Homo sapiens: one gene and its partners. The protein of the gene in region 1 purifies or fractionates together with the protein of each later gene. This does not show direct contact. Each region holds a gene or a part of one and is shown in the gene's direction. Other genes may lie near its edges.

Region 1 (7,478 bases):
GCACCAGGAGGGGCACCAGGCAGAGATGTGGGTCCATTCCAGCTGCCCCGCCTGCCAGCTCAGACGCTCCCTCCCGGGCAGCCCCCGCTCCTTGAGGGATGGTCGCCCTGGCTGTTCATGTCCTGGGGAGGGGCCCCATGGAGCCATCGCCACCTCCCTGACTCAGGCTGCCCCGCGCCGGCCCCCAGGTGAGCGTGGCCGCCCGCATGGCACAGAAGATGTCGTTTGGCTTCTACAAGTACAGCAACATGGAGTTTGTGCGCATGAAGGGCCCCCAGGGCAAGGGCCACGCCGAGATGGCGGTCAGCCGAGTGTCTACAGGTGACACATCCCCCTGTGGGACTGAAGAGGACTCCAGCCCAGCTTCGCCCATGCACGAGCGGGTAAGGGCTGCACAGCTGGGGGCGGGGGCTCCCATCCGTCAAGTTCACTTTCCACCGTCTCCCCCGTGCTCACGGCCCCCTGGGGACATAGGTGTTGTCATCCCCAACCACCAGTGCGCAGGCCGAGGTGCCGAGCGTGCGGAGGCCCGGACCACCCAGCCCTTCTCTTTGCCTAGCGGTTTGTAGGAGGCACTGCCGCAGGGGAGGCGTTCCTGCCTTGCAGACCTGGAGGGCTGTGCCTGGCCAAGGTCACACCGCAGGCTGGTGCTGGGCCAGAGCTCTTTCTGCCTCCCTGAGATGCCACAAAGCCAGGCTGAGTCCACAGAGCCAGTGGGCAGAAGAGACTGGCTGGGGACCCAGGCCCGGCCCTGGCGCCTGCCTGGGTGGACCTGCTGGGTGAGCGTGGGCACGTGGCCGGCCTTCCCCGGTGAGTCAGATGGGGATGATGGTGACTGAGGGTCAGCCAGCGCATGCAGAGGCCTAGGCCACCCAGCTCTTTGCCCCGCGGTTTGTAGGAGGTTCTGCTGCAGGAGAGGCGTTCCTGCCTCGCACAGCCGGAAACCAGACTTGCCAGCTTGCCCCAGGTCACAAGGTCTCTTGGGATAGCACTGGGCTTGGGGCCCTGCTCTGCCTAGGCCACTCTCCTTCCCCAGGGCGGGAGGCTGAGGTCAGCAGCAGCTTTGTTCCCAGAAGCCTTTGGTGGGGCACAGGCAGGAGAAGGTCTCCAGCCCACTGGCTGCTTTGCTCTACCTGGTTCTTCCAGAGGGACTGCCCAGAGCTGTAGTTCTTGGAAGAGTACAGGTGTGCTGGGCAGGGGGGTGCCCTTGGCACAGGTCCAGGGGCAGTCTTGCCCAGCCATTGTCCAGGAGAGACGCCACCCACAGCCAGAATCCTGCTCTGCTGCTCTCATAACCTTGGGTGTGTCTCTTTTCCTCTCCAAGCCTCAGTTTTCTCATCTAGAAACAGGGCACGAGGATACCTGCTCCTTCAGTATTTGGGAGGCTTTGAGGAATCCGGGGCTTGGCCCTCAGGAGGATTCCCAGGTGGCAGCTGCAGTAGTTGCTGTTGACCTACTTGGAAAGCAGAGGCGTGGGAATGTAAACGATGCATTACCGCAGGCATGCCTGAGATGAGGGAGTGTGCGTTTGTTATACTTTTAGTTCGAGAAAGATCTGAATCATGCATATCTCCGGGTGGTCAGATGTTGGTTTTCTTTCTCTTCTGTATATCTTTTTTTGGGGGGGAGGTATCTTCTGCAATGAATGTGTTTTGCAAGCCAAAGACAGCAAGTGCTATTTTTTGCAAAGATGGGTGAGAATTCCAGGCAGGGGCCTCTCTTGTCTTTGGAATGAGGTGGTTTATATTTCTGAGTTTGTTTCCGAGATAAAGGGCCTGGTTCTTCTCCCTGGTCCTAAATTATGCCCTGGGACTCTGACAAAATGTGTGTGTGAAAGTCCTTACGAAGATGTGGCCCGAGCTCTGGGCTGGACAAACCCGGGTGCCACCTCCAGCCACAGCCTGAGGGCTGAGTGACTACAGGTCACTAGACCTGCCTGAGCCTTGGTTTTCCCATCTGTCCAGCGGGAGTGGCTGTGAGGGGTGTGAAAGTCCCTGGTGCCTTAGCAGCTGGGCAGCCCTGGGATTCAGGAGGAGGGATGTGCTAGGGTCACACAGGGTCAGCAGCAGGGCTGGCCCCTGGGGACTGCCGCCTGTGCGCCTGCTATTACCTGTCTCCTTCTCTGGCGGGGTCGTCTGGAGCCAGTGCGTGACACATGCTGACTCTGTGTATTGTGGTTGCTGCTGTTTGTTTCTTTTATCTTTTAAAAACCTTCCCCGGCTTGTGGGAACACCGTCTGGAGCCCAGCAGCTGCCAGGACTTTGGTGGATGTCGGAGCCGTGACGAGGAGGCTGACGGGGCTCCCGAAGTCTCAGTCCCAGCTCATCCTGCTCCTCAGATTATTGTTGGCATGGGGAGGAGGGAGGAGATGGGCCAAGTTCCCTCTGGCTGGAACGCCCTTCCCCCCCTTCTTCACCTGGCGAACTCCTACTCGTCCTTCAAGACCCAGCTCCAGCGGCATCTCCTCCAGGAAGCCTTCCCTGATTTCCCAGGCTGTGGATCCCTTTTGCCTCTGTGCTTCATGTATCCTGTGCTTCTCTTTCTCTGTCTCCACAGCCAGCATGCTGTCTATGGTTGTCACTCTCTGAGTCTGTCACCCCAGCAGACTGTGAGCTCCTTGAGGGCAGGGACCTGCAATGTGCCTGTCTGTCCTTAGTGCTGTGCCTGCCTGGCCCTGAGTGGGTGTGAATGTTTGGTGAACAGAACCAAACGTGATTAGAAGTGGGGAGAAGACAGAGGCATAGAGCTACTTAGCACAGTATTTCCTGTGAAGGGTGCTGGGAATGAGAGGGATGGGGCCACGTCAGCCCTGAGAAGTAGGATGAGGAGCGTGGCCCTGGGGGACAGAAGACAGGGCTGCTGCCGTCCTGCTTGGTGACCACAGGCAAGCCAGGGTCTCGGTCCCTGCCTTAGTTTCCCCATGTGTCAGATGGGCTGACGCTAGCCCCTGTCTCACGGAGCTGGAGGCTCAGAGGGTCTGTGTGTGGGGCCAGTGCTCACTCAGCGTCAGCAGCTGTTGTTACTTTGTGCTTGAACACCCCCTACCCACTGTTTGAGGCCCAGAGGAGGGGGGTCTTTCTGCCATTTGCGGCAGCAGCCTGGCCCCTCCTCGGGTAGCACTGGTGGCCAGGTGTCCTGCTGGCCCCTGGGCTGGAACGCATCTTCCAGTCTCTAGGCCCCACCTAGCACGGGCCGGCTGGGCCTGGGTCCTCCTGGGCCAGCGGCCTCTTCCCTGGGAGCTGTGTCAGGTTGTTTGAGGGTGGGATAGGAGGGGCGTTGGGACCCCCGGGGAGGGGGCTGTTCTGCTACTCTGGTGACTTTGGCTGCTTGTTCCCAGGTGACCTCCTTCAGCACACCCCCCACCCCAGAACGGAACAACCGGCCTGCCTTCTTCTCCCCATCCCTCAAGAGGAAGGTGCCCCGGAACCGGATCGCTGAGATGAAGAAGTCGCACTCGGCCAACGACAGCGAGGAGTTCTTCCGGGAGGACGACGGTGGAGGTGACCCCCCACTCCGTGCCCTAGGGTCCCCGTGCCCTTCAGTCTCTTCTTGATCCAGACCAGTCATTCATTCATTTATTCATTCATTCATTTGTTCATTCAGCAGCACTTAGAGAGTGGGTGCCATGTGCCAGGCAGCCCTCCAGGAGCTGAGGGGTAGAGCTGGGGACAGGCAGAAATGGCTGCCTCTGGGGGTCCCGTCCTGGTGGGCTCAGGCGTCTCCTTGGCAGAGTGCTTGGAGCGCAGATGTGCAGCAGTTGGTCAGTTTCAGGGGATTTCCCACCTTTCTAAGGCTTTTCAGCCTGCTTAAGGAAGAAAGCGGATGGGTGATCTGATGGCTCCGCACACACGGGGTGTGGCGGGAGAGAGGAGGGCTTCCCTCCCTTGCGCTGCCTTGGGCCAGCTCGCCCTCAGGGTGAGGCCTGGCCCTCCTGGCTCTGTGCAGCCTCCCAGAACCACGTGCTCTTTGGTGACACAGTCGCCACCTCGTGCAGCCTACCCCCGGGGCCTTCCTGTGCCCCTGTCCCCTGGACTCCGGTTGTCTGTATCTGGGTGTTACCATGCCCCTTAGTCCTGCCCAGGCACAGTCTGCACTCTCTCCTGAGCACCCGTGCCTGCTCCCTGTCCTCGCTCAGTGACCTTCCAGAATACAGGAGTTGTTCCCAGAGCCCCCAGGGAGGCCTCTGAGGGGTTTTAAGCAAGGGAGTGACACAATCAGATTAGCATATTTAAAATGCCACTCAGCAGTCTCTGTGGGAAATGGCTCCTGGGGACAGGCGTGGCCGTCACAGACAGGTTGGGAAGTTCTGCCATGCTCTGCTGGCATGGACCACGTGCCTTCCTCACTGTCATCCTCAGGACCCAGCGGGCGCCTGGCTCCGCACTGTGTGCGTGTCTGTTGAGTGTATGGAAGTGAAGGATTGGCCAGGCACAGTGGCTCACCCCTGTAATTCCAGCACTTAGCGAGACCGAGGCGGGTGGATCACCTGAGGTCAGGAGTTCGAGACCAGCCTGGCCAACATGGTGAAACCCTGTCTCTACTAAAAATACAAAAAATTAGCCGGGCATGGTGGTGGGCGCCTGTAATCCCAGCTACTCAGGAGGCTGAGGCAGGAGAATCTCTTGAACCTGGGAGGCAGAGGTTGCGGTGAGCCGAGATCGTGCCACTGCACTCGAGCCTGGGCAAGAGTGAGATTCCATCTCAAAACAAACAAAAAAAAACGACGTGAAGGATTCGCTGACAACTCCCACTGAGCACCTCCCCCAGCAGGGAGCAGGGCTGCAGCATTGATCAGAAGAGGTGGCAGTCTTTGTCCTGACCACTGGGACCAAGAAGCAGGGGTGTCCCACCTGCTCAAGGCCCTGGCCTGGGTCAGGGACTCCAGCACTGGCCTCGACCTGCTCTTGTGTGAACTTGGGCAAGCCCCTTCCCCACCTGGGCCCGTTCCCGAATCAGTAAGAAGTACTGATCACTGCCCTAGTCTGCCTCTCTGGGGCAGGTTCCCCCAGCCTGGACCGCAGGACTGGGTAATGGTGCAGGTCGGCTCAGCCTTGCTGCTCCCATGCTCTGCAGGTGGCGGTGCCTAGTTCCAGGGACAGGGCCTGCAGAAGCAGAGAATTACACAGTGTGTGTGCCAGAACCCCCGGAGGAGACTAAGCTTGTGACAGAGAAGAGAGAGATGAGGGGGGTGGCCAAAGTCTTCCTGGAGTTGGAGGCCTGGGTCTGGGCCAGAGGAAGCAGGGAGGGGTGTTACAGGCGAGGAGGCAGCAGCTCTGGAGCGTGTGGGTGCTGGTGTGGGGGTGTTGGTAAGGAGCGTCCTGGCCTCAGCAGAGTTTGGCCTCAGCCTGGACTGGGAGCTGGCCTCCTGCTGCTCCCGCCGCGTCCCATGCTGTGGGGGCCTTGACCTGGCCTTCTTTCCTCCAGCCGATCTGCACAATGCAACCAACCTGCGGTCTCGGTCCCTGTCGGGCACAGGACGGTCCCTGGTCGGGTCCTGGCTGAAGCTGAACAGAGCAGATGGAAACTTCCTTCTCTATGCACACTTAACCTACGTCACGTTGCCGCTGCATCGGATTTTAACAGGTAATGCTGGCGGATGTGGGGAAGCAGCCGCACCTTCTCACAGCCAGCTCTGCCTCCAGGGCCTTGGTACTTGTGAGCCACCCGGAGTCATCCCGCCCTGTCCTGTCGGTTGGTTGGGTTTCTTTGCAGGGCTCTTGGCCTCTTTGTCTCAGACTTTGGGTGGAGCCGTAGCTTTCCCAGAGCTGAAGTCCTCCCTTTGTTCACCTTTCTGGCGCACCTGCTGTCCCCTCTTGAGTGGCCACAGATGCCCAGGTGTGTGTTACTCACGGGCGAGGGGAGGCTCTCAGGCCACCTCGCTGACCCAGGCCTGCAGCAGCTGTGACAGGCAGTGGCTCTGGCCCCCACACCAGCTTGCACCTGAGGCCCTGCAGGGTGTGCCGTTGCTGCGAGCCCATTTCCCAGTCTGCAGGGTGAGGATGGTGGAGACACGTCTCCTCTGCAGTCTGTGAGGCCTGGAGAGGAGATGCATGAGTGGCTGAGGCGGGCTTCCTTCAGAAGTGGCACTGCCGTGACCATAGCACTCACCGCTGTTGAGGGTTACTGTTTCACCTGCTTCCCTCCTGCCGGCCCTAGACATCCTGGAAGTTCGGCAGAAGCCCATCCTGATGACCTAGCCGCGTGCGGAGCCTGCGCAGAGCCCCGGCCGGGCCCAGCCCTCGGAGTGCTGCCAAGTGCCTACCTGTCCACCGCCACCGGGGTCTGCGATGGCACGCCAGTGCTGGAGCCGCAGCCAGGCGAGGCCACTCGACTCCCGGGGCCGGGGCCGACTCCACGAACACCAGCCCAAACTGAAGTGCCTCTTCCCTCCCCTGCTGGCGCTGCTCCGCCCTGTGCCCCCCGCCCATCGCCCCCCACCCATCTCTGGAGAGCCCTCTGCACCCAAAGAGGACTAGAGATGCCGAGCGGCCATGAGAGAGAGCGGAAGGAGCAGCTGATGCCCAGAGCGGGGCCAGAGCGGCGGGTCTATGTTCACGTCCCCCCAGCAGCAGGCGGAACCACCCAGCCAGGGCACTCAGTGCATTGGACTGTCCACATGTTCTTGAGGAAAGCCGGTGGAAGATTCTGGAATGCCGTGCGGATGAACTTCAGCACCCGAGTCAGTCCCAGCTCATCCTCCCCAGTTTACCACTTTGTTCTAATAGGAGATGGGAACACGAGAAGTTTGATGGCTTTGCCCTGGGCTGGGAATACCTCACCCACGCCCAGTTCCAGAAAGGCCTCCAGCTGAGCAGACGGCCCCGATCCCGCCAGAACGGCCTTTTGCTTCCAGCCAAAGAACACCGCCAACACGCACACCTCCAACCTGGGACATCCCACGCTGGGCCTCGCACGGAGGAACCTGCAGAATTTGGATTCTGAGGGTAGTCGGGAGGCCTCGGTAGCCAGGCAGAACAGGATATCTGCCAAAGGGTGTCTGATGTGGGGTGGGGCTGGCATCCTCCCAGGAAGGTTCTAGGTGGGACCCCGTCTTCTGGGGGCGGGGGTGTCTTTTCATCTTCCCTGGTTTCCTAGAACTCACTTCCTTTGACGGCGTGTGTTGGTCCCATCTCTCAGACCAGCTCACTGAGGCAGAGGAGTTGCTCAGAGGCTCACATGGGCACCCCCATTGGTTCGTGTGAGCAGCTGCCCAGCCCCAGGCCTGCCCTCGGCCTGGTCCAGCATGAAGGCGTTTCCATCTGCAAGGATGCACGGTACCCTCCCCGAGAGCAGGCCTGTCCCCTACCCAACTGGGAATAAACTGGAAGCTGGGTCTCTTTGTTGCTATGTTTTTTTGTTTGAAGTTCCCAGGAATATTTGAGGGGTTCCGGTGATGTGTTTAGGGATCTTCTCTGTGGGGGAAAAGGAAGAGGAGGGTCTTGTTCTCCCATCTGTTTATTCTTTGGGCTCTGGGAACA
Region 2 (8,024 bases), on another chromosome or scaffold:
AAGGTAATTTATAGATTCAATGCCATCCCCATCAAGCTACCAATGACTTTCTTCACAGAATTGGAAAAAACTACTTTAAAGTTCATATGGAACCAAAAAAGAGCCCGCATCGCCAAGTCAATCCTAAGCCGAAAGAACAAAGTTGGAGGCATCAAGCTACCTGACTTCAAACTATACTACAAGGCTACAGTAACCAAAACAGCATGGTACTGGTACCAAAACAGAGATATAGATCAATGGAACAGAACAGACGCCTCAGAAATAACGCCGCATATCTACAACTATCTGATCTTTGACAAACCTAAGAAAAACAAGCAATGGGAAAAGGATTCTCTATTTAATAAATGGTGCTGGGAAAACTGACCAGCCATATGTAGAAAGCTGAAACTGGATCCCTTCCTTACACCTTATACAAAAATTAATTCAAGATGGATTAAAGACTTAAACGTTAGACCGAAAACCATAAAAACCCTAGAAGAAAACCTAGGCAATACCATTCAGGACATAGGCATGGGCAAGGACTTCATGTCTAAAACACCAAAAGCAATGGCAACAAAAGCCAAAATTGACAAATGGGATCTAGTTAAACTAAAGAGCTTCTGCACAGCAAAAGACACTACCATCAGAGTGAACAGGCAACCTACAAAATGGGAGAAAATTTTCGCAACCTACTCATCTGACAAAGGGCTAATATCCAGAATCTACAATGAGCTCAAACAAATTTACAAGAAAAAAACAAACAACCCCATCAAAAAGATAGTTAAAGTTTTAAAGAAAACTTTAAAAAGGCTCTTTTTCATATACAACTTTAAATTTTGGTAACAGTTGAGAGCACCAAAGACACACGTTTTATGCTTTAAGCAGAAGACATGTCATTTGAAATGAATTACTAAAAATCTTTTATTTAGAATGTTTATTCTAGTCTATTATTCTCTGCAATTACCAAGTGTTATTTCCTGACACACACTTTCATGTAAACAATGCACAGAAAAAAACACTGTTTTTGCTGATCATGATACTATGCATCAGTTGGCAAAAATCTGAAATAGATTAATTTTGAAAGCAAGGTCATTGGTTTTTAAAATAAAATGGTATGTACTTTTTATAAGAACCAAATTAAGCAAATTATATCAGTTTTCCTAATACACTGATCAATATAGTACATGTAATATTCCAACAGTTTGTAAATCTTCAGAACCCTTCAAACCCAAGGATTAGAGCATATAGTTTTGTTGTATTTGCTTTGTTCTTTTACTCTTAACCTGAAAATCAAATTTTCTGGGTTTGGTGATGTAGGGGATAAAAAAAAAAGAAATTAGTTAAGACCAACTAAGCCTATGATCTAAACAATTTGAAGCAATAACTTTACATTTGAGAACTTGTAGATGATATGAAACTTTTGTCAGCTATTAAACATATTTTTTAAAGCCCTGCTGATGAAAGATGTAGCTTCCAATGTTTTCTCCAGTAGAGTTAATGAGCTAGATAGAAAATATCTCATTAATTTCTTGAGTCCCCTTGTGAGGCAAGAAAATGACATTCTTATCCAACAGCTGGAAAAGCTGAAGAATTAGTGGATGTAACTGTGCTCAACTGCAAAGGAAAAAAATAGCTTTACTATACCCTGAGATGTGGATATGAAAGAATATTGCATACACATATACCCTCTCCCTTATTTTTAAGGAATCAATATCTGCTTAAAGAATAAGACTAGTTAAAACCCTTGGATCTTGGCCCTATAACTTTTGGCAGAGTATATTACTGCTTCATGGCCTGGCAGTGCAGTGACTCTTTTAATTTACTTTAAAATAGCTTTTCCCTAATCTGTACAACCTAACATCTGACCAATCATGAATCTTCAGCAAACTTAAGCCTCTTATTCCATACATTTTTTAAAACTGTAAAAATTCAGGAAATAACTCTTTGCAAAGTACATTGAAGCATTTATTGGGAAGCAAAAAAGCACAAGTTGAAGTGATTTGTAGTTTCATAAAAACGAATTTGACATTTTACTTAGAAGTTGCAAACCACCACATGGTTTTGAGTTTTGAATTCATTTGCTTTGCAAAAAGTGGAATGTTTTATTTGAATGGAAATGCCCTCAAGTTACTTCCAGCATGGCTGTAGGATTGATTTTTCTAGGTTAAGGGAATGCCAAAGTTTAGTGCCTTGTGTATATTCTTTTCGAAAAAAACAAACTATTATCCATGTATTTAAATGGACGTAGGAAATTCAAGAACAAATCAGGGAAATTTAACATCATTTCAGTATTACCAACATAGGGCTTTGTGTAACGACTGTGACATCAAGATAAGGCTTTACCTCGGCTCATCCAATAGAAATACAGTATGTAAATTAACCCATATTATCTGTATGCTGATTGGCCTGAGTTCCCCTGAATGTCACAATCTCACCACCCAGCAATGAGGTATTTTACTGCTGTCTCAAGATCAGATTATTACTGTAGAGAAGATTTTTATTTTTTGTTTCATTAACAGATTATTATAAAGCAAAAAGCATGCAGAAAAAGAAGCAGACGTTTTACATTGGGAATTAATGAAAGCGTGTCTGCTAGTTTTGGGTAGGAGAACTGGGAAGTTGTTGCTTAAAATTTTATATCACCTCCACAAACAAAACTCTTCGGAAATGGTAAAATAAGAAAATGCATGATTCTAGAGGCATTCCTAAGCACCCACGTGTCAGGCTTTGTGGTGTCTGTGGTATCATCCGACCGTTTGGACTGGTGTAAGTTTTACGTATTTGTTATATTTCTAGTATTTTTCATCTGTAATAACAAAGGGGAAAAAAGGAAACTCGTACACATAACTGCTTTGACATCACCCATCATTGGTCAGCGGAACTTGTAAGAAGGGAAAAGGAATACTGTTGCTTGGTGGGGTGGAATGCCAGGAATAGCCATTTAAACATTTTATAAGCCTGATTCTTTAGTGACATCCTTTAAGGTAGACTGAATGTAAATCATATTGTAGTTGTCCTCTGAACTTAGCTTTCTCCCTACTTTTACGCATATTTGCGTGCATTGGAGAATAGAAGATGACTAACAAAGAGAGAGCTGCCCTAACGTGCCTTCCCTTCTTCCCCATTGAAAAGATTTTTAACTGTGGGAAAAAGATAAATAAATAAATAAATAACTTTTTTTCTTTTTTCCCATTCTTTTCTTGTCTTTTTCCAGCTAACCTGCAAATTTAAAGGTTAGCTGGAGACATCACTTAAAAATAAATATATAAAAGAAGCCTCCGGTGGTTTGGACCACCCTAAAAGAAAAGGGAAGAAAGTGTCTGGGGAAGGTTAGGGTTCCGGGAAGCTGAGGGAGGGGGCGGGCGTCACGGGCACTGTGACTTCCTCGTGCGCTGCCTTTGGGAAGAGGATGGGCCTGAGGTCCTGAAAGGGCCTTTCCAGCCCCCCACTACAAATGCGGGGAGGGAAAAGTTCAGAAGCAGCCACGAAGGGACAAAAGCTTAATGCTGCCAGTTGGATTGGACAGGGCAGTCAATAAACCCAGCCAGCTCTGGAGTCAGGTAGGGGTTCCTGCTGGTTCCACAGAGGCTGAAGCAGCCCCGCCGCCGCCCTCGCCACCGCAGCCGCCGCCGCCGCGGCCCCTGCGTTACTGGGGGAGACGGTGCCGCTGCGACAGGGGAGGACGCGGCTGGAGCTCAAGGAGGCTCCAGCGCGCAGGCGCCGCCGAGCCCTGCCTGGATGCTCAGTCAAGGCACTAAGGCAAAAAAAAAAAAAAAAAAAACAAAAAACAAAAAAAAAAAAAAAAAAAAGAAAAAGAAAAAAAGAAAAAAATCAGCAATTTATAGAAAGAAGCTATAGTCTGTCGGGATATCCAACACCAACAGGTAGGAGGATATACTCTTGGTTAAGTTTGGGGGATGTGGGGGAATGCACAGTGTTGATGAAACTGCAGGTTCACCGAGAAAGAGCCCTCCCTCAGGTTGTGTGTGTGTGTGTGTGTGTGTGTGTCTCTGTGTGTGTGTGTGTGTGTGTGTGTGTATGTGTTTTGTGACAATAAACTGCATAATGGAAGTACATTCAGACAATGCATCTTCAGTAGGGCTTACTGAGAGCTCCATTTCTGGAAAGCCTTACAAGACTGAGGAATATCAGACTGCGAATCACCGGGAACGGTTCCTTTGCAGCACAGAAGCAATCTCTCTCCCCATCTTCGCGTATGTAATGCATGTCTCTCTCCCTCTCCCCCTCCTCCACCCTCCCCCCATTATAAATCCAGGGGTGGCGGATTTCAGGTTTCGTAATGTTGCATGATGCGATCGGTATTTACCCGAGGATGTACCGGTGGGGAAATTAAAATCATCGAACGCAGTTTTGCCTGGGCTTCCACCAGCATATTCCGGGCCAGTGAGAAGTGGCAAAAGAAACACGCTTGGTGGGAATAACAGAGGAAGCCGATTTCCCTGGTGTGGTCCAGGCACCTGCGAGACAATGTGCATTTTGTTTTAAAAAGCAGCCACTTGTGATTTGCAACAAAGGTTATCAGTGTAAATGGGAAAGGCTTAATTGCCCAAGAAATACAGGTTCATGTTATATTCATTTGAATCCAGGCAGCCAAGGTTTACAAATGGAAGTGCATTATTCCTCTGGGTGTGTTTCCCTGTCCAATATTTACATTAACCATTTTAATAATCATGTGGGCTTAAAAGATTTGCCAGAAATGGGGGGTAGGGTGGAGAGGGAAAGACAAATGATTAAATCACATCAAATCTTGGGACAAGTAAGTTCCTATTAATTTTGAAGTTAATTTTGAAATTTTGCTTTAAGATGAATCAACAAATACTCTTATGCAGCATGAATAGTGGCACTTAAGATATATTTTGCACGGGTTCTTTGGACCCACATCAAACAGAGAAGCTGCCTGTGAAACACTGACAGATACTAATAGATCTCAAATAAATGTAGGTAGTGTCTCTGCCTCCTAATAGCAATCTTGTAGATTCCATTGCAATTCTAGTGGTTAATTCCTGGACTGGCATATTTTACAAGAATGGGACATTTTATTCCTTCTCTCCTAAAGTTACCCTATCAAATGTATATTGTCCAAAATAGGGACATTTTAAAATTCACTTAGCTTGAAAAACTAAACAAGCCAATTCTCTGAAATCTCGAGCAAAAATATTTAGTAAAGCAAATATTAGTATTCAAAATTAAAACTTTATTTGCTTCCCCATAAGTGAACAGCTTTGTTAGCACTGTCTGACATCATTGCTTGTTAACTTAAGAACTGATAGGTTTTTTTTTTTTTTTTTTTCAGATATTCTGATGGCAAAACAAGTGGAAGAAAAGAGGAAGCATGACTGCAGATCAGATCAGTTCTCTTTGTGGATTATATTTTCAGTAAAATGTATGGATCTATCTTTTCCTTGTTCTTATATCTAGATCATGAGACTTGACTGAGGCTGTATCCTTATCCTCCATCCATCTATGGCGAACTATAGCCATGCAGCTGACAACATTTTGCAAAATCTCTCGCCTCTAACAGCCTTTCTGAAACTGACTTCCTTGGGTTTCATAATAGGAGTCAGCGTGGTGGGCAACCTCCTGATCTCCATTTTGCTAGTGAAAGATAAGACCTTGCATAGAGCACCTTACTACTTCCTGTTGGATCTTTGCTGTTCAGATATCCTCAGATCTGCAATTTGTTTCCCATTTGTGTTCAACTCTGTCAAAAATGGTTCTACCTGGACTTATGGGACTCTGACTTGCAAAGTGATTGCCTTTCTGGGGGTTTTGTCCTGTTTCCACACTGCTTTCATGCTCTTCTGCATCAGTGTCACCAGATATTTAGCTATCGCCCATCACCGCTTCTATACAAAGAGGCTGACCTTTTGGACGTGTCTGGCTGTGATCTGTATGGTGTGGACTCTGTCTGTGGCCATGGCATTTCCCCCGGTTTTAGACGTGGGCACTTACTCATTCATTAGGGAGGAAGATCAATGCACCTTCCAACACCGCTCCTTCAGGGCTAATGATTCCTTAGGATTTATGCTGCTTCTTGCTCTCATCCTCCTAGCCACACAGCTTGTCTACCTCAAGCTGATATTTTTCGTCCACGATCGAAGAAAAATGAAGCCAGTCCAGTTTGTAGCAGCAGTCAGCCAGAACTGGACTTTTCATGGTCCTGGAGCCAGTGGCCAGGCAGCTGCCAATTGGCTAGCAGGATTTGGAAGGGGTCCCACACCACCCACCTTGCTGGGCATCAGGCAAAATGCAAACACCACAGGCAGAAGAAGGCTATTGGTCTTAGACGAGTTCAAAATGGAGAAAAGAATCAGCAGAATGTTCTATATAATGACTTTTCTGTTTCTAACCTTGTGGGGCCCCTACCTGGTGGCCTGTTATTGGAGAGTTTTTGCAAGAGGGCCTGTAGTACCAGGGGGATTTCTAACAGCTGCTGTCTGGATGAGTTTTGCCCAAGCAGGAATCAATCCTTTTGTCTGCATTTTCTCAAACAGGGAGCTGAGGCGCTGTTTCAGCACAACCCTTCTTTACTGCAGAAAATCCAGGTTACCAAGGGAACCTTACTGTGTTATATGAGGGAGCATCTGTAAATCTTTAGCCTTGTGAAAACTAACCTTCTCTGCTGAGCAATTGTGGCCCATAGCCATATTTTGAGAAGAAATTCAAGAATGGAATCAGCAGTTTTAAGGATTTGGGCAACATTCTGCAGTCTTTGCAATAGTTCACCTATAATCCTATTTTAAATCTCAGAGTGATCCTGCTGACTGCCAGCAAAGGTTTGTAATTAAGAAGGGACTGAACCACTGCCCTAAGTTTCTTTATGTGGTCAAAAACTAGATAATGAAAGTAGCAGGTGCTAAGTATCAGTGCTAAATGCTCTGTATGTCACTACATATGAAAAAACATCAAAAAACAATTAGCATTGGACATCTTAATAAATTAAGTTGACATGAGGTAAATGTGTTGATAAAAACTAATTTTAGAAGTTTGAAGACTTTAAAACATTTCATACTACTATTGTTTTGCAAAGACTAAAATATTTGGGGACTTAAAGTACTGTAATCCACTAAAGACGTGCCAATGAATTATTGGAATATCACACTTTAAAAACCGCCTTGTAAGTTCTGGGGAGCATTCCAAAGCAGTATATTGGTTCCAATTAGAGTTTACTTTTTTTGTATTAATACATTGCTATTTCTAAATACCACTTTCCTCATCTACTAGTAAGATTGCTAGCATTGAACTGTATTATGTGGTTTTTGTTGATTTGGTATAAAGTTTTTCCAATTCATTTATATTTTACAAATGCTAGATATTGGTCTGGGAGGCAACATTAATGGTACCAGCCTGTCACAACTGAGCAGTTCTAATAATGCAGAATAAATACATGTTGCCTTAAAGGGTTATCTAGTATCCTTCATCTTATTTAGCACTGGAGCAAATAGCCAAGGGAAATCAAATCAGTAACTGGTCATGGTCATGCATCTAAAAGTGCATGGAAGATCATTTATTACTTTTTCCTTTTTTCTCACATGGTTTGAAACTTAAAGTGCACATCACTGAAATAATGAGATTTTCTTCTACGGTGTGCTACCCTTTCTAAACTGTTCTAAGAAGCAGGCAGTTGATGTATGTTTATATTTTAAGTCAGCTGTCAAGGGGAGACCACAGCCTTAGTATGACATCCTGCACAATTTGTGAAGCATTTATTCTACTGAAGGCACAGTCTTGTTTATACTTTCTGCACATTCAGTGTATTGGTAATTTAAATTATTTCAGTTTTAACTTGTGAAAGCTTATATTATGATTTCTGGTATTTTAGAAATACATTAGAGTCTGTGAGTCTCATTCTTTAAGATACAGATGTGTGAACTTCAATATAAAGTTGCATTTGCCAAAATTTACCCGTGTAGCCTGTTAATTTTCTTGAAATAAGTTTTACATTTTTGGCACATAACAACTTTTTTTTTAATTTGGGAGGCAAGCACAAACTAGGAAGACTAGCTTTATTATGGTTTTGCTTT
Region 3 (6,911 bases), on another chromosome or scaffold:
CCTTGATCATTTTGTTTTTACCCCATTTTAAACATGAGATTGGTTGAACACTTACTGGCATTTGTTGACAAGTATGCTTGTACGTTTGAAAGGTGATTAGTCACTGCCAGGGTCTGTGTGTCGGCGCCAAATAATTACCTCACAGACCATTGCCGCTGTTGGCTCGGTTTTTTTCTTACACCACTTAATGAGGTAATAAATTATCATGCCTGTCCCAGCTGAAGACCTGCTGGTGCCTGCTTTCACATCTTTCTTCAACAACTTTAGTGTTCTGCATTCCGAAGACTAATCTAAGCTTCATGTCTTCCTTTCATCCCTTGGGCAGATGGAAAAAAGAAAGTAACTCTTTCTGCATCTTGTAAAATTAGCTTATGTTGTAATTTATGCTGGCGAAGGCAAACTGGAGAGGAGAGGGGAGAGAAAAGAAAATCAGGCCAGGCACAGTGGCTCACACTTATAATCCCAGCATTTTGAGAGGCCAGGGCGGGCAGATTGCTTGAGCCCAGGAGTTCGAAACTAGCGGGGCAACATGGTGAGACCCAGTCTCTACAAAAAATATACAAAAATTAGCCAGGCGTGATGGTGTGCACCTGTAGTCCCAGCTACTCAGAAGGCTGAGGCAAGCAGATCAGTTGAACCTGGGAGGTCAAGGCTGCAGTGAGCCGAGATCATGCCACTGTGCTCCAACCTGGGTGACAGAACAAGGCCCTATCTCAAAAAAAAAAAAAAAAAGCAAAAGTTAGAGTCCATTACAATCATTTGAATGGTTCCTTGGTGGATACAAAGACAAAACATACTGATTTTCAAGAACATAATTAGTTTGAGGAGATAAATAATACCATTTGGGTGTGTGTATGTGTTTTTGTTTTTGTTTTCTTTAAAGACAGAGTCTCACTCTGTTGCCCAGTTTGGAGTGCAGTGACGTGATCTCAGCTCACTGCAATCTCTGCCTCCCGGACTCAAGCAATCCTCTTGCGTCGGCCTCCAAAGCTGGGACTACAGACATGTGCCACCACACCTGGCTAATTTTTTTGTATTTTTTGTAGAGATGGGGTTTCACCATGTTGGCCAGGCTGGTCTTGAATGCCTGAGCTCAAGTGATCCTGCCTCGGCCTCCCAAAGTGCTTGGATTACAGGCGTGAGCCACCTGTAATCGTGGCTGGCCAATATTTGGGAATTTTTAAAGGTTTTTTGCTGAATATATATTTTTACAAACAAATTTACAGGTATATTTTATTGTGGTGGTTTGATTCATTTAATTAAGAACAAAATATTTTATAGTCTTTGAGAGCTAAACATGTTCCTGATTTTATCATCGTGTAAACAGACATATAGTAGCCAGTAAATGGAAAGAAGCAATAGAAAGCCGTATAAGAGGTTTGAGATGAAATATAAAATATATATTGTTAAGCTTTTCTATAGTTTTTTTTTTCCACATAAGATTTTGACTGAAATACACAGGGACAGCTGAAATATTAAAGTTTGAAAAATTGTGTATTTTGTGTGAGCTGTTAGCTTGTTTTTCAGCCCTGGCTAAGATAAATCATCTCTTGAGAAAGATTGCATCTTTTATTATTTTCATACTAACATTATTATTATTTTTTAATGGATTACATTCAAGGCAGAAGAGTAAATGGCCCAGAGAGACTTATCTTTGGAAATAAATGTTAACAGACAGTAAAGTTTTCTGTGGATCTGTAGATTTTTTTTTTTTTTTTTTGAGACAGAGTTTCTTGTTGCCCAGGCTGGAGTGCAATGGCATGATCTCGGCTCACTGCAACTTCCGCCTCCTGGGTTCAAGGGATTCTCCTGCCTCAGCCTCCCGAGTAGCTGGGATTACAGGCGTGTGCCACCACGCCTGGCTAATTTTGTATTTTTAATAGAGATGGGGTTTCTCCATGTTGGTCAGGCTTGTCTCGAACTCCCAACCTCAGGTGATCCACCCGCCTCGGCTTCCCAAAGTACTGGGATTACAGGCATGAGCCACTGCACCTGGCCAGATCTGTAGATGTTTAACCCTTCTGTTGAAACAGCTGGTGGCATGGAGACAGCAGCTTTCTTTCAAAGCTGAAAGGATTTCCAAGCCAGTTTATGGTACCTTCCTTGGGTTTAGTAAATCTCAGCTTCACAGTAAAATTCCCTGGCCTGCTTAGGTTTGAACATGGCTAGATCTGTCTTTTCAGAGACAGAGCTTGTTATTATCAGTTACTGAAACCTACAATGTTTTCCTTAATCCTAATAGGTTACATATGTAGCGTGCCAATTTGCTTCTGCTCAGTTGTTTTTATAATCAAACTTTTATCCGGCATTTCATTAGTGCCTCTTACCTGGGGCAGTCTTTTTAATGAACATTATTAAGCAGCCCCTTCATCACCATGCTTGCTGTGCTGCAGGCTTCAGAGGGAGTGTAATCAATTCACCTGGTTGCAGATGACAAGAGTGGCTTTCTTTTTATTGGGTGTTGATACTTTAGGGTCCCTATTATGAATGTTTTATGAGCAAAGGTTTGATTCATGTCTGTCAATGTAAGAATGGTTTAATAGTTGATGCCAGGTTCAGATACCGAAGGGAGTTTATATAAAAAAAGCAAACTGCCACCTACTAATAACCTTTAAAAAGTAATATTTCTCAGTCATTTTTCGTTATACATTTGAGGTTGTCAATGAGAAGGAAACTAAAATTTCTACTTAAAAGTTTCTTCTGCAAGCAGTTTAAAGTTATTGTTTTTCCTATTGTAGCAAAAAATAAAGACCTACATTTGAAGGTATCTATTTTATTAATAAAATGTACTGAAGCTGGCCGGGTGTGGTGGCTCACGCCTGTAATCGCAGCACTTTGGGAGGCTGAGGTGGGCGGATCACCTGAGGTCAGGAGTTCAAAACTGGCCTGGCCAACATGGCGAAACCCCGTCTCTTCTACAAATACAAAAATTAGCCAAGTGTGGTAGCGCACTCCTGTAATACCAGCTGCTAGGGAGGCTGAGGCAGGAGAATTGCTTGAACCCAGAGGGCGGAGATTGCAGTGAACTGAGATCGTGCCACTGCACTGCACTCCAGCCTGGGTGACAGAGCGAGACTCCATCTCAAAAATAATAATAATAATAAATAAGATAAAATGTACTGAAGCCTATTCAATAATTTTCATAGTTTCTTAAGAGTTTGGATGGGGGTTGGGGAATATACATTTTCCAGTAAAGTTTGAGGTTATTACCTGGGTATATGTGGTTCTGCATATTAATGACAGAATACACCAACTTGGCTTATATATTTGTGTGGGAAGAAAAGGAATAGGAAAATTTTTCCTGAAATAAGTAAACGTATTGTCAAATTAGGGGTTACTTTGAGATCTCTTATAAAAGTAGTTCCTTAAGCCTTAAGCCTGACATGACATTCTGTGGTGGCCTGGGATGAAGGTCATATCATTTTTTTCCACGTTTTCCCCCTCTGTCTTGAACGTAGTTTCTGTTGTGAGATTATGGTACATGGATGCTAATCAGTAGATCCATATATTACCTGAAGGAAAACTTCCTTGGCATTTCTGCACATGGAGAGTGTATAAATGGTAGTTTGGTGGTAAATTCATAACTCTTTTTTTGTTCTTTTGTCAGGGTATGGGATGATGGGATCATTGATCCAGCAGACACCAGACTGGTCTTGGGTCTCAGTTTTAGTGCAGCCCTCAACGCACCAATAGAGAAGACTGACTTCGGTATCTTCAGGATGTAACTGGAATAAAGGATGTTTTCTGTTGGACATGTACTGAAAATTAACACATGTAGTAGCCTTAAAATTTTAGACTTCTCGAACATGAGGCTGTTACAGTAATTTTTTTAACACTGTGCATTGTACTTTTCTACCTTAAAAAAATCAGTGAGGATATTTATTTAATGAACATCAATTCCTTTTAAATTTTCTTAGAGAAATTTCTCTGTGGCTCAGTTTTACCACCCATAAAGCGGAGACAGTAATTTACGGTTATCCTTTCTGACCCACAAAGTATGAAAAGTTCTGTAATCTGTAAACTCAGTTCTGTAATCTGTATTATTGAGATGATTAATATAAAGTTGTATTTTCACTGAAATGATTGTTTTGCTGGTTATGCTTGGTGATATTTTAGCGGGCTTATTTTTGAAAGGCATCTGTTACTTCAGTGGCATAAAGTGCCCTCACACTGCTGTGCAGCCATCACCACCATTCATCTCCAGAATTTGTTCTCAGTCCCAAACTGAAACTATACCATTCAAACAACAGCGCTCCCCATTTCCCCCTCCCCCGAGCCCATGACATCTCCTTATTATTATTTTTTTTTTGAGACAGGGTGTTTCTCTGTTGCCCAGGCTGGAGTGCGGTGGTGTGATCTCGGCTCACTGCAGCTTCCACCTCCCGGGTTCAAGCGATTCTTGTGCCTCAGCCTCCCAAGCAGCTGGGACTATAGGCACGCACCACCACACCCAGCTAAGTTCTGTATTTTTAGCAGAGACGGGATTTCACTAGGTTGCCCAGGCTGGTCTCAAACTACTGACCTCAAGTGATCCACCCGCCTCGGCCTCCCAAAGTGCTGGGATTACAGGTGTGAGCCACCGCGCCTGACCACATCTCCTTATTCTTAAATGTATGTGTTTCTCATGGTTTGATTTATTCTTGCTGGGCCATTTCAGCCCCTGTCATGGCTTCACTCGCCATCTAAATGCAGATGATTACTGCCTTGACGGTTCTTAACCCAGCTCTCCCCTGAGCTGCAGGCCTGCATATCCAGTAGGTCTACTGGACATCTGTACTGGTTGTTGTGGAGGAACCTCTGGCTTGCTCATTAAGTCCTACTGATTTTCACTATCCCCTGAATTTCCCCACTTATTTTTGTCTTTCACTATCGCAGGCCTTAGAAGAGGTCTACCTGCCTCCAGTCTTACCTAGTCCAGTCTACCCCCTGGAGTTAGAATGGCCATCCTGAAGTGAAAAGTAATGTCAGATTACTCCCTTCAGTGATTTCTTGTAGAAGTGCCAATCCCTGAATGCCACCAAGATCTTAATCTTCACATCTTTAATCTTATCTCTTTGACTCCTCTTTACACCGGAGAACGGCTCCAGCTGTTCTAGCTCTCTTTCAGTTCTTTGAACCTTCCCACCTTAGGGTCTATAAGGTTCCCTCTGCCCAAATTGTTCTACTCTCCCTTCTTCTTCAACACATCCTTCAGTTTAAGCACTTGCTTCTCTCAGTTTAAACTCCACTTCCTTAGGGATGTCTCTGTGACCTCCCTGTGCTGGATTAGCTTCCCTACTCTATGCTCTTGTAAAACACTATCTACTTCCTTTGTCATAAACTCATCATTTTCCTATAAACATTAATATTGTCCTCCTGCTAGAATGTAAGCTCCGTGAGAGCAAGGATCCTCCTGTTTACCCTGTACCTCCAATGTCTGGCACTTGTAGGTGCTCAAATATTCGTTGAATGAATGAAAAATCCATATTGTAATTGATGTCCTCTGGCCACATAGTTTTAAAATTAGGTGATTGATTATATGACCGAATAGAACTATCAAATGTTTTCCTAATAAAGTCAATATTTCAAACATTTGTGTGTGATATTTAGTATTTTAAACATTTGTGTGTGATGTTCAATGTGTACCAGGAAGTCAATTTAGTTTTTGTGGGGAGAATATAGATAGATGATCAAATTCAGTGGTAGGTTACATTTTCAGAAGCAATACATTAAGTATATTAAAATAGTAATATTAAAATTTTAATGAAAATGCACATCTATGTCAAAATGATTTTCTATATAAAGACTAGGTAATATTCCTTTGGTAGGAACCATTAACAAGTCAAGGATTCATGGATATTTTAGGACTGCTTTTGCTTTTCTGGGAAGAAACTGTCCATCAATAAAACCACATTTAAGTGAATTGGATTTTTTAAAACTTATTTTTCTAGAGGCAGGGTCTTGCTATGTTGCCCAGGCTGGACTCGAACTCCTAGGCTCAAGCAATCCTCCTGCTTCAGCCTCCCAAGTAGCTGGGACTACAAGCTTGCACCACTACGCCTTGCTCTATTTTGTATATTTTACCCAACAATAAACATTTATAATTGTCTTACCAAAATAGGTAATACTTTTTAAACATTTTGACTATCATAAATATGAATTCCAGCAAGGATAATATGAGCTACTTGGAATTTGAAGAAATATACAAGTTAGTCTCTAAATTTGCCCCTGTTGGTACTTAAAGAATGAAAAAGACAAGATTACTTCTATTTTTCAGTTTATAAGAAAAGTATTTTCAAATCGAATTTGTTAAAAAAAAAAAAACACTTCTGCACCAGCAGAAGGCACTATTGAGTGTTTGAGTGACACCATCATTTGCCAACATGCTTATGTGTATGTCTCTCCAGAGAGAGGCCATATGTTTCCTTCACAGGGATAAATCAAAGCAGGTTTTGGAATGATACATTAATAAGATTATTTTTGAGAGGCCACATTAGTTCTAAAATGCATTGAGTTTGGTTTTATGGAAGATTAAATCTCCACTAAGAGTCTTGGCGATTTTTTTTTTCTTAGTGATCTTCTAATGATTGGTTCTGAAGTTTCATATATGGAAAAATGGCAAGAAGATGAACTAGGTTATCATAGCCTAGTGTCATTCATAACATTTCCCTTAAAATGTTACAATTAAGTACAATTAATATTTAATGATGACATAGATTTTAATCATTTTCGACAAAACGTTTTGTGCCTTTCCACTAAACGCTTAAAAATAGTTTGTTTCAGCGGGGCACCCTGGCTTAACACCTGTAATCCCAGCACTTTAGGAGGGTGAGGCAGGAGGATTGCTTGAGCCCAGTGGTTGGAGAACAGCCTGGGCAACATAGCAAGACCCTGTCTCTACTTAATAAATAAATAAATAGGTAAATAAATAA
Region 4 (7,478 bases), on another chromosome or scaffold:
TCAGTATTTCTTTTCTCAAAATAAGCACAGATATAAGAAGGAATTCATTCCTGCACCAACTAAAAAATGTGATCTCTGATGTACAGGAAAAGTTAATTGTTAAAGGATATAAATGATACAGTTTCTACATTAAATGTTTTATATTCCAAAGCACTGGATAAAAGAGGACATACTTTATCTGAAATGTTTCAGATGTATCCCACAAAGATTTTACTTCTTGTCAACATGTGTCTTGTCATTATGATTATCTGTGATAATATACACATGATTTATTTCCACAAGTAATTTATTTCTTAAAATTAAATCAAAGGGATATGTACATTTTCTGCCTCAAAATGTATATTATAAATCAGCTGAATACAAATAAAATTCCTCTAAAAATTATCTAACATATTGAAGCACTAAGTTAAATGATAGGGGGCAGACAACACAATTAAAAGGGGGAAGGGAAAAGAGTATTGAGAGTAAAGCATTTTCTTTTTTCTTTTTCTTTCTTTCTTTCTTTTTTTTTTCTTTGAGACAGAGTCTTGCACTGTCGCCCAGGCTGGATTGCAATGGTGTGATTTCGGCTCACTGCAACCTCCTCTTCCTGGGTTGAAGCAATTCTCCCAACCAGCCTCCAAGTAGCTGGGACTACAGGCGTGCGCCACCATGCCTGGCTAATTTTTGTAGTATTAGTAGAGACGGGGTTTCACCACGTTGGCCAGACTGCCCTCGAACTCCTGACCTCAAGTGATCTGCCTGTCTCGGCCTCCCAAAATGCTGGGATTACAGGCATGAACCACTGCGTCCGGCCCGAGAGTAAAGCATTTTCATGATGTAATTTTAGATGTCTTTTCCCTTTCTCCCATACCTTAGTATTATAGCTTCCTGCTTTGCCATCAATGTGAGCTAATTAATAAAACATCCACTGTTGTTTTGTCATTATGCCTTTCAACTTAATGATTTGCAGAGGCTATATCTCAGCATCTTGGAAAAATAAGGTATGGCCTATATGCTCTTATGTTTAAGACAGTATGATTGCATACAATATAACATGTTGAATTTTCAAGAAAAAGCTCACATCTATTGAATATTCTGCCTTCTTTATTGCTTTCTATGTTAGTTTCAGTTCTACGTGGTTTCTATTCCCTTTTCTAACCCTTACTGTGTGACTGTAGGCAATTCACTTAACCTTTCTGTCTCAGTCACTTTATCTATAAAATGGGAATAATGATAGTGCCTCATGGTTTGTAGTGATGCAATAAGATAACAAAAGGTGCATAGACTCGTGCCCAGGACGTGGTAAATAGTCAATAAGTGCTGGCTGTAATTAGGATTTTTACCATAATTACTGGCTTGCGAATGGTTATCTCTAGGAGCATGTATTAATATTATAACCTACTGGAGATTGTGAAACAGAACCAACTTTTTCTGTCTCCACAGTTTCTATCAGCCATGGAAGTAGCAGGGGAACATTATTGTTGATTAATTGATTGTAATTCTTATGTCAAATTGTGAATTTAATATTTTATTTATCATTTAGGTTGCCAAAGCTTCTTTTCAAAGGAACAATGATGCCTTAGATGCTGCACTATTCTACCTTTCAATGAAGAAGAAAGCAGTAGTGTGGGGTCTGTTTAGGTAAGTTGCCTTGACACTTAACGTGATTCAACAGAATGAAGATTGTGCTGTGAGTAAGAAACCTAATGCTTTTGAAAATAATTAGGTATATGAGCTTCATCAAATCCACTTCTATGCGACCTGGTTCCTTTAGCTGAAAAAAATGGGTAAAATATCTTTTCAGCTTAATCTAGAGGATGGGATGTTTTAAAAGTTGATAAAAGCACTTTGCAAAGTAAAAAATGCTGTTTCCTATTTATGTATACATAAGGCATTATTGACCTTCCTTCTTAGAAGAAGTGAAGAGATGCTTGATAACAAATGCCTGTCCTTGAAGTTATTGTTCTTCTTTTAGATTTCTGTTTGAGGTTTTTATTTTATATTATTATACATTCTGTAGAACATTTTAAATTTGGTTTAACCACTTTATGTTTATGCTCGGTCCCCAGGTCACAGCATGATGAAAAAATGACAACATTTTTCAGCCACAACTTTAATGAAGATAGATGGCGAAAAGCTGCTTTGAAAAATGCTTTTTCCTTACTTGGAAAACAACGCTTTGAACAATCGGCTGCTTTTTTCTTGCTAGCTGGTTCATTGAAAGATGCCATAGAGGTATAAATAAGAAAACACACTATATAATACTTGTAAAAGATTGAAAACCTAAGAAGGTTGTAGAGGAGATTGTAACTTTTGGTCATATGTTTGTTAGGACACAGAATAACTACAGAGGTTGCTGTACTTAAAATAGTGGCACTGTGGTAAAGGAAAATATGAATAAATTCAAGGGAGAAACAAATGAAAAATTTCAGGCTGGGCATGGTGGCTCACGCCTGTAATCCCAGCTCTTTGGGAGGCCAGGGAAGGTAGATCACCTGAGGTCAGGAGTTCAAGACCAGCCTGGCCAACATAGCAAAACTCTATCTCTACTAAAAATACAAAAATTAGCCAGGTGTGGTGGCACATACCTATAGTCCCAGCTACTCGGGAGGCTGAGGCAAGAGAATCACTTGAACCCGAGAGGCGGAGGTTGCAGTGAGGTGAGATTGTGCCACTACACTCCAGCCTGGGCGACAGAGTGAGACTCCATCTCAAAAAGAAAAAAAGAAAAATTTCATATATGGCACATTGCATTTCAAGACTATGTGTAAAATATATGAAAAAAATGCTGAAAAATAGTTTATGAATGTCTTCTTCCAGACCATCTTGTGATTCTGAACTGTTTAAAGTACATAGGTCACAACCTCCTTATTCTGTGCAGAAAGGCAGATACATTAAGCTGTTTTTTTAAATGAAATTCATAAATAAGGAACTGAAACTCCAGTTTGTACTGTTTTATAATAGTTTATAATATTAGAATATTATATTAGAAAACGATGTGAGGAGGTAAAACTTCCCACTTTTTGATATGTAATCCTAGCAGCTGATTATGAGAGTAATTACAAATGTTTGTGTTTACTTCTGATATCTTCCTCTTAGATTACTATCATGAACAATATGAACAGGTAAAGGACAAATACAGTTGGGAATAATATATGATAGAAAAACAGGAAATATTCAATTAAGTGAAAGTACTTTAGTATTTTAAATTTAGAATTAGTTGGGTTTTTTTTTACAATTATCCCAGGCATATGAGTTTCTTTTTTTAAATAACAAATACTTAAGATTTTAAAATTGGAAGTTTAGCTTAGAAGATATTCAAGCAAAGAGAAGTGTTGACTGAGAGATGCTCATATTGCCTAAATGACCTCAAATGCTCAGAACTGGTAGTTGCATTAGAATACAGGCTCCCAGAGACTATGAATAGAACATATGGCTGTATTTCATAATTTATTTACTATTTAAATATGAGGCAGATAGTAATAATTATGATTATGCAGAAATATGTTTGGAAATTAAGAGGAAGTGGTATATAAATTCTAGTGTCATATATAGTATTTAATTTAAAAATGAATGTTATTTAAGTTGATCTTAAGTCTGAGATGATATTAATATACTTTGTTTCATGCTTATTTTATAAATGATCTGTCTAGTTTGGAAGCTACTGGGTTCCAACCTGTTACTCTTTTTGCTATTCTTTAATCTCCTATCAATCATTTAACTACCCTTCACTGTCCCTTCGCCCACCATTAGGATATAAATGGTAGATAATTTCAGGGTATTGATGGGATATTTCATCTCTCTAAATAATTATCATTAAGTAAGATAAGTATTAATATTTAAATTTGCAGGTATGTCTTGAAAAAATGGAAGATATTCAGCTAGCCATGGTTATTGCCCGTTTATATGAATCTGAATTTGAGACTTCATCCACTTATATATCCATCCTAAATCAGAAGATTTTGGGTTGCCAAAAGGATGGCTCAGGATTCAGTTGCAAAAGATTACATCCTGATCCTTTCCTGCGTAGTCTTGCCTATTGGGTAATGAAAGATTACACCCGAGCCTTGGACACATTACTGGAACAAACACCAAAGGAGGATGATGAACATCAAGGTAGGACGTTTTGTGGATTTCTTTTTTTTCTTTTTTAAAGGAAGAGATACTTTCTGAACTAATGTTCACTTAGATTAAGAAAAATCATTACCAGATTTGCTTTTCAACTTTGAGAATTTATTATTAAAATTTCTTGTGTGTCTAAAGGATTAGATAGGATTACCATCCTATTCTAATTACGTATATATTTAACAAGCATACAAAATGTTTGCCACATTCTGTAGCTCTTTTTACATAATCATATAGCCATTTTTTTTAAATGGAAATTTTGGCTGTTACACGTATTGGTTTGTCACATGGGCCTGGAAAAACTTTATGCCTCTGTGGTAAATTTTCTTTTTTCCTTGTTATCCTAAATAATTTAGATATTACAAGCACTTAAAGGATATTTATCAGCATTGTTTTCAATAATTTGAAAGGAATGGAACATTTTAAGTTTTTGTCAATAGAATAGTTAAATACGTTTTAATATATCCACATATAGAAACAGTGTGTCATTAAAAATTGAGGTAGATACATATGTTAATATGTGCTGTATTTTTAAGTGAAAAAAAGTAAGATGCACAGCAGTGTGGTTCTTGTTGCATTTGGCATATGTATGTTGTACAAACATGCACCTGAATGTGCACACATGTTATGTCTGCCTCCTCCATTTCCTTTGGTTGTTTCCTGAAACAAATCATAAGAAATGAAATACTGGTCATTGGTCACTGGCTACCTTTTGGGAATAAAAATGAGGAGATCCTTGTCTTTGACTTTTGACAACTTGACCATGTGCCTTGGAGAGGATCTTTTTAGGTTGAATCTATTTGGGAGTATTTGAACACCCTGGACCTAGATGCCTATCTCTTTCCCAAGACTTGGGAATTTTGGGCTGTTACTTTATTAAATGTGTTTTCCTCACCTTTTCCCTTTTCTTCTTCTTCTGGAATGCCCATAATATGAATATTTGTTTACTTAATAGTGTCCCATAAATCCTGTAGGCTTTCTTCATTCTTTTTTTTCTGTTCCTCCTTCTTCCTTTTTTTTTTTTTTTTTGGTTTGCCTGAGTTATTTCAAAAGACCTGTTTTCAAGTTCAGAAATTCTTTCTTCTGCTCGATCTAGTCTGTTGTTGAAGCTCTTGATTATATTTTTTATTTCATTCATTGAATTTTTTAGCTCTAGTATTTCTGTTTGGTTCTTTTGTATGATATCTATCTCCTTGGTGAATTTCAAATTCACATCATGTATTCTTTGCCTGATTTCATTTAGTTGTATATCTGTATTCTTTTGTATCTGAATGAGTTTCCTTAAGACTATGATTTCCTTAAGAATTATTTTTCTGGCATTTCATGTTTCCTTGTGACTAAGGTCTGTTACTGGAGAATTAGTATTTTCCTTTCCATTCTTTTCCTTTGGTGTCATATTTCCTTGCTTTCTCATGGTTGGTGTGTTTCTACATTGATTTCTATGTATCTGGCAGAAAAAGTTGCCTCTTCTAATTTTATGGAGTAGGTTTCATAGGGAAAGACTTGTTACTATGAATAGGTCCTGAGGTGTTGGTTTGGTGGAGTGCATTGGTTAGATGGATACAGTAGTGTAGTCTCCATGTAGCTTCTTCACCTGTAATCCACATTAGTGGCATTTGCAATCCTCTCAGTTGCCTAGGCTGAAAGAGTTTGCGGTGATGGCCATGTAGCTTTGCCAGGTGGGCTCGCTGGGCAGTTTTTCAGGTTGGGGTGCATATGTGCACACAATGGGTCAGCCAGCTTAGGGTCTGGTTGGCTGGGATTGGGGCCACAGGTCTGTTACTCTGGCCAGGAGTGTGGGTACATGGTCACTTGGCCAGCCTGGAGGTGTGCCTGCCAGAAGCAGCCCACAGGGCTCATATGTGGCCTCACGGCTACTCAGCTGGCCTGGGGTTTTGTCTGTTAGGGGTGGGGATAAGGCTATTTCTCAGGCCCATGACACGATTGCATGGCTGCTCAGCTGGCCTGGGGGTGTTTCTGCAGGTGTTGCCCATGGGTTATTTGTATACCTGTGATGCAGGTGCAGGGCTGCTCAGCTGGTCTGGTACTATGTTAGCTGGGGTGGCAGTGAGGCTGCTCCTCAGGCCTGAGGTGTGGGCATAAGGCTGCTCAGCTGGCATGGGGGCGTTTCTGTTAGGGGCTCATGGGGCTATTTCTCAGGTCTGAGACTGGTGCAAGGCTGTTCAGCTGGCTAAGGGGTGTGCACACTGGGAGCAGCCTGCAGGGCTGTTTGACCAGGCTGGGATGTGTCCACCAGGGATAGCCCACAGGGCCGTGGAAGTGGGCTCTTGGCTGCTTGGCTGGCCTGGTGGTGTGCTGCCAGGGGCGGCTCGAAGGACTATTTCTCAGGCGTTGATTGCAGGCGCAGGGCCTTTGGCAGGCCAGAACTCTGAGTGCAGGGAGCAGGGGCGCTGCACGCTGTTTCTGAGGTCCTGAGTGTGGGCATGTAGCTGCTTTGCTGGCCTGGGGGCATATCAGCTGCTCGTAGGCTTGGAGACCTCTCCCATTTGGGGGAGGGTATGTATGTAGTGGTTTGGCTGGCTCAAGGGCAGGTTCACCCTGGGCAAGACTGCCAGATTGTTTCTCTGACCAAAAGTGTGATGGTAGGGGTTGATTTCCCTGCCATGCAGGACCAAAGTCATAGCCAGTCATGGTCCTAGGCTCTGCATAGCTGGGATTGTAGCATTCAGCTACCCATGTAGGCTTGGAATGAAGACGGGTCCCCAGTGTTGGAGAGGTACAGTGACTCCTGGCCCCCAGAGCAGTGCGCATGCCAGAGGTGACTGGTCTCAAGATAGTGCTTGTGCTGCAGCAGCTTGGCTCACTGGCGGTAGGTGGAGGGCACACACCTTATGCTCCTAATCTGGGTCAGTGCCGTTGCGTGAACTTCTGACGTCTCTCCAAACTGGACACAGGGCTTGCAAGTACTATGGGATTCTTCTGTTGTAAGGACTGTAGATGTTTGTGGTGGCCATGAGGGCTGATGGGGATCTTCTGTTTACCTTTTCCCCTCTGCAATGAGAAGTTCTTCCTGACTGTGGGCAGATCCAGTCTGGGTGGGGGAGATAGGGCTGCAGAGGCCGGGTACCTCCACACTGCTCTCCTAGACTTGCAGTCACCACAGGTGCATCTCCACTCCCCTGCTGCACTCTAGTGCTCTCCCTTTGACACTCCAGTCAAATCTTAGCTGTTTATTCATTGCCTTGGTCCTTTCTTTTCGGAGGATGAATGCCAGGTGTGTCTAGCAGCCATCTTGCTGGCATCATTCTCTTGGTTTATTTTTATGGATGCTCAGATTGTTCTTTCACAAATGGGAACTTCTTCAGGTTTCTGAATTCTTCTGGCATTATTTCTTGATAGTTTTCTTGCTT

The links.
Region 2: the proteins of KIAA0930 (region 1) and GPR85 purify together in Homo sapiens (co-immunoprecipitation; one large-scale study listed by IntAct). This does not show direct contact.
Region 3: the proteins of KIAA0930 (region 1) and MCCC2 purify together in Homo sapiens (co-immunoprecipitation; one large-scale study listed by IntAct). This does not show direct contact.
Region 4: the proteins of KIAA0930 (region 1) and DMXL2 purify together in Homo sapiens (co-immunoprecipitation; one large-scale study listed by IntAct). This does not show direct contact.

What each region holds. Positions count from the first base shown.
Region 1 is NC_000022.11:45,195,895-45,203,372, reverse strand, and holds part of KIAA0930 (uncharacterized protein KIAA0930), read left to right. Parts: intron 1-188; coding exon 189-383; intron 384-2,353; exon of another isoform or gene 2,354-2,419; intron 2,420-3,337; coding exon 3,338-3,500; intron 3,501-5,424; coding exon 5,425-5,583; intron 5,584-6,156; coding exon 6,157-6,197; 3' UTR 6,198-7,478.
Region 2 is NC_000007.14:113,082,161-113,090,184, reverse strand, and holds GPR85 (probable G-protein coupled receptor 85), read left to right. Parts: upstream 1-3,357; 5' UTR 3,358-3,863; intron 3,864-4,017; exon of another isoform or gene 4,018-4,075; 5' UTR 4,076-4,193; intron 4,194-5,293; 5' UTR 5,294-5,463; coding exon 5,464-6,576; 3' UTR 6,577-7,900; downstream 7,901-8,024. UniProt on the Homo sapiens protein: Orphan receptor.
Region 3 is NC_000005.10:71,653,136-71,660,046, forward strand, and holds the end of MCCC2 (methylcrotonoyl-CoA carboxylase beta chain, mitochondrial isoform 1 precursor), read left to right. Parts: intron 1-3,607; coding exon 3,608-3,725; 3' UTR 3,726-5,571; downstream 5,572-6,911. UniProt on the Homo sapiens protein: Carboxyltransferase subunit of the 3-methylcrotonyl-CoA carboxylase, an enzyme that catalyzes the conversion of 3-methylcrotonyl-CoA to 3-methylglutaconyl-CoA, a critical step for leucine and isovaleric acid catabolism.
Region 4 is NC_000015.10:51,482,693-51,490,170, reverse strand, and holds part of DMXL2 (dmX-like protein 2), read left to right. Parts: intron 1-1,525; coding exon 1,526-1,623; intron 1,624-2,051; coding exon 2,052-2,217; intron 2,218-3,833; coding exon 3,834-4,098; intron 4,099-7,478. UniProt on the Homo sapiens protein: May serve as a scaffold protein for MADD and RAB3GA on synaptic vesicles. Plays a role in the brain as a key controller of neuronal and endocrine homeostatic processes.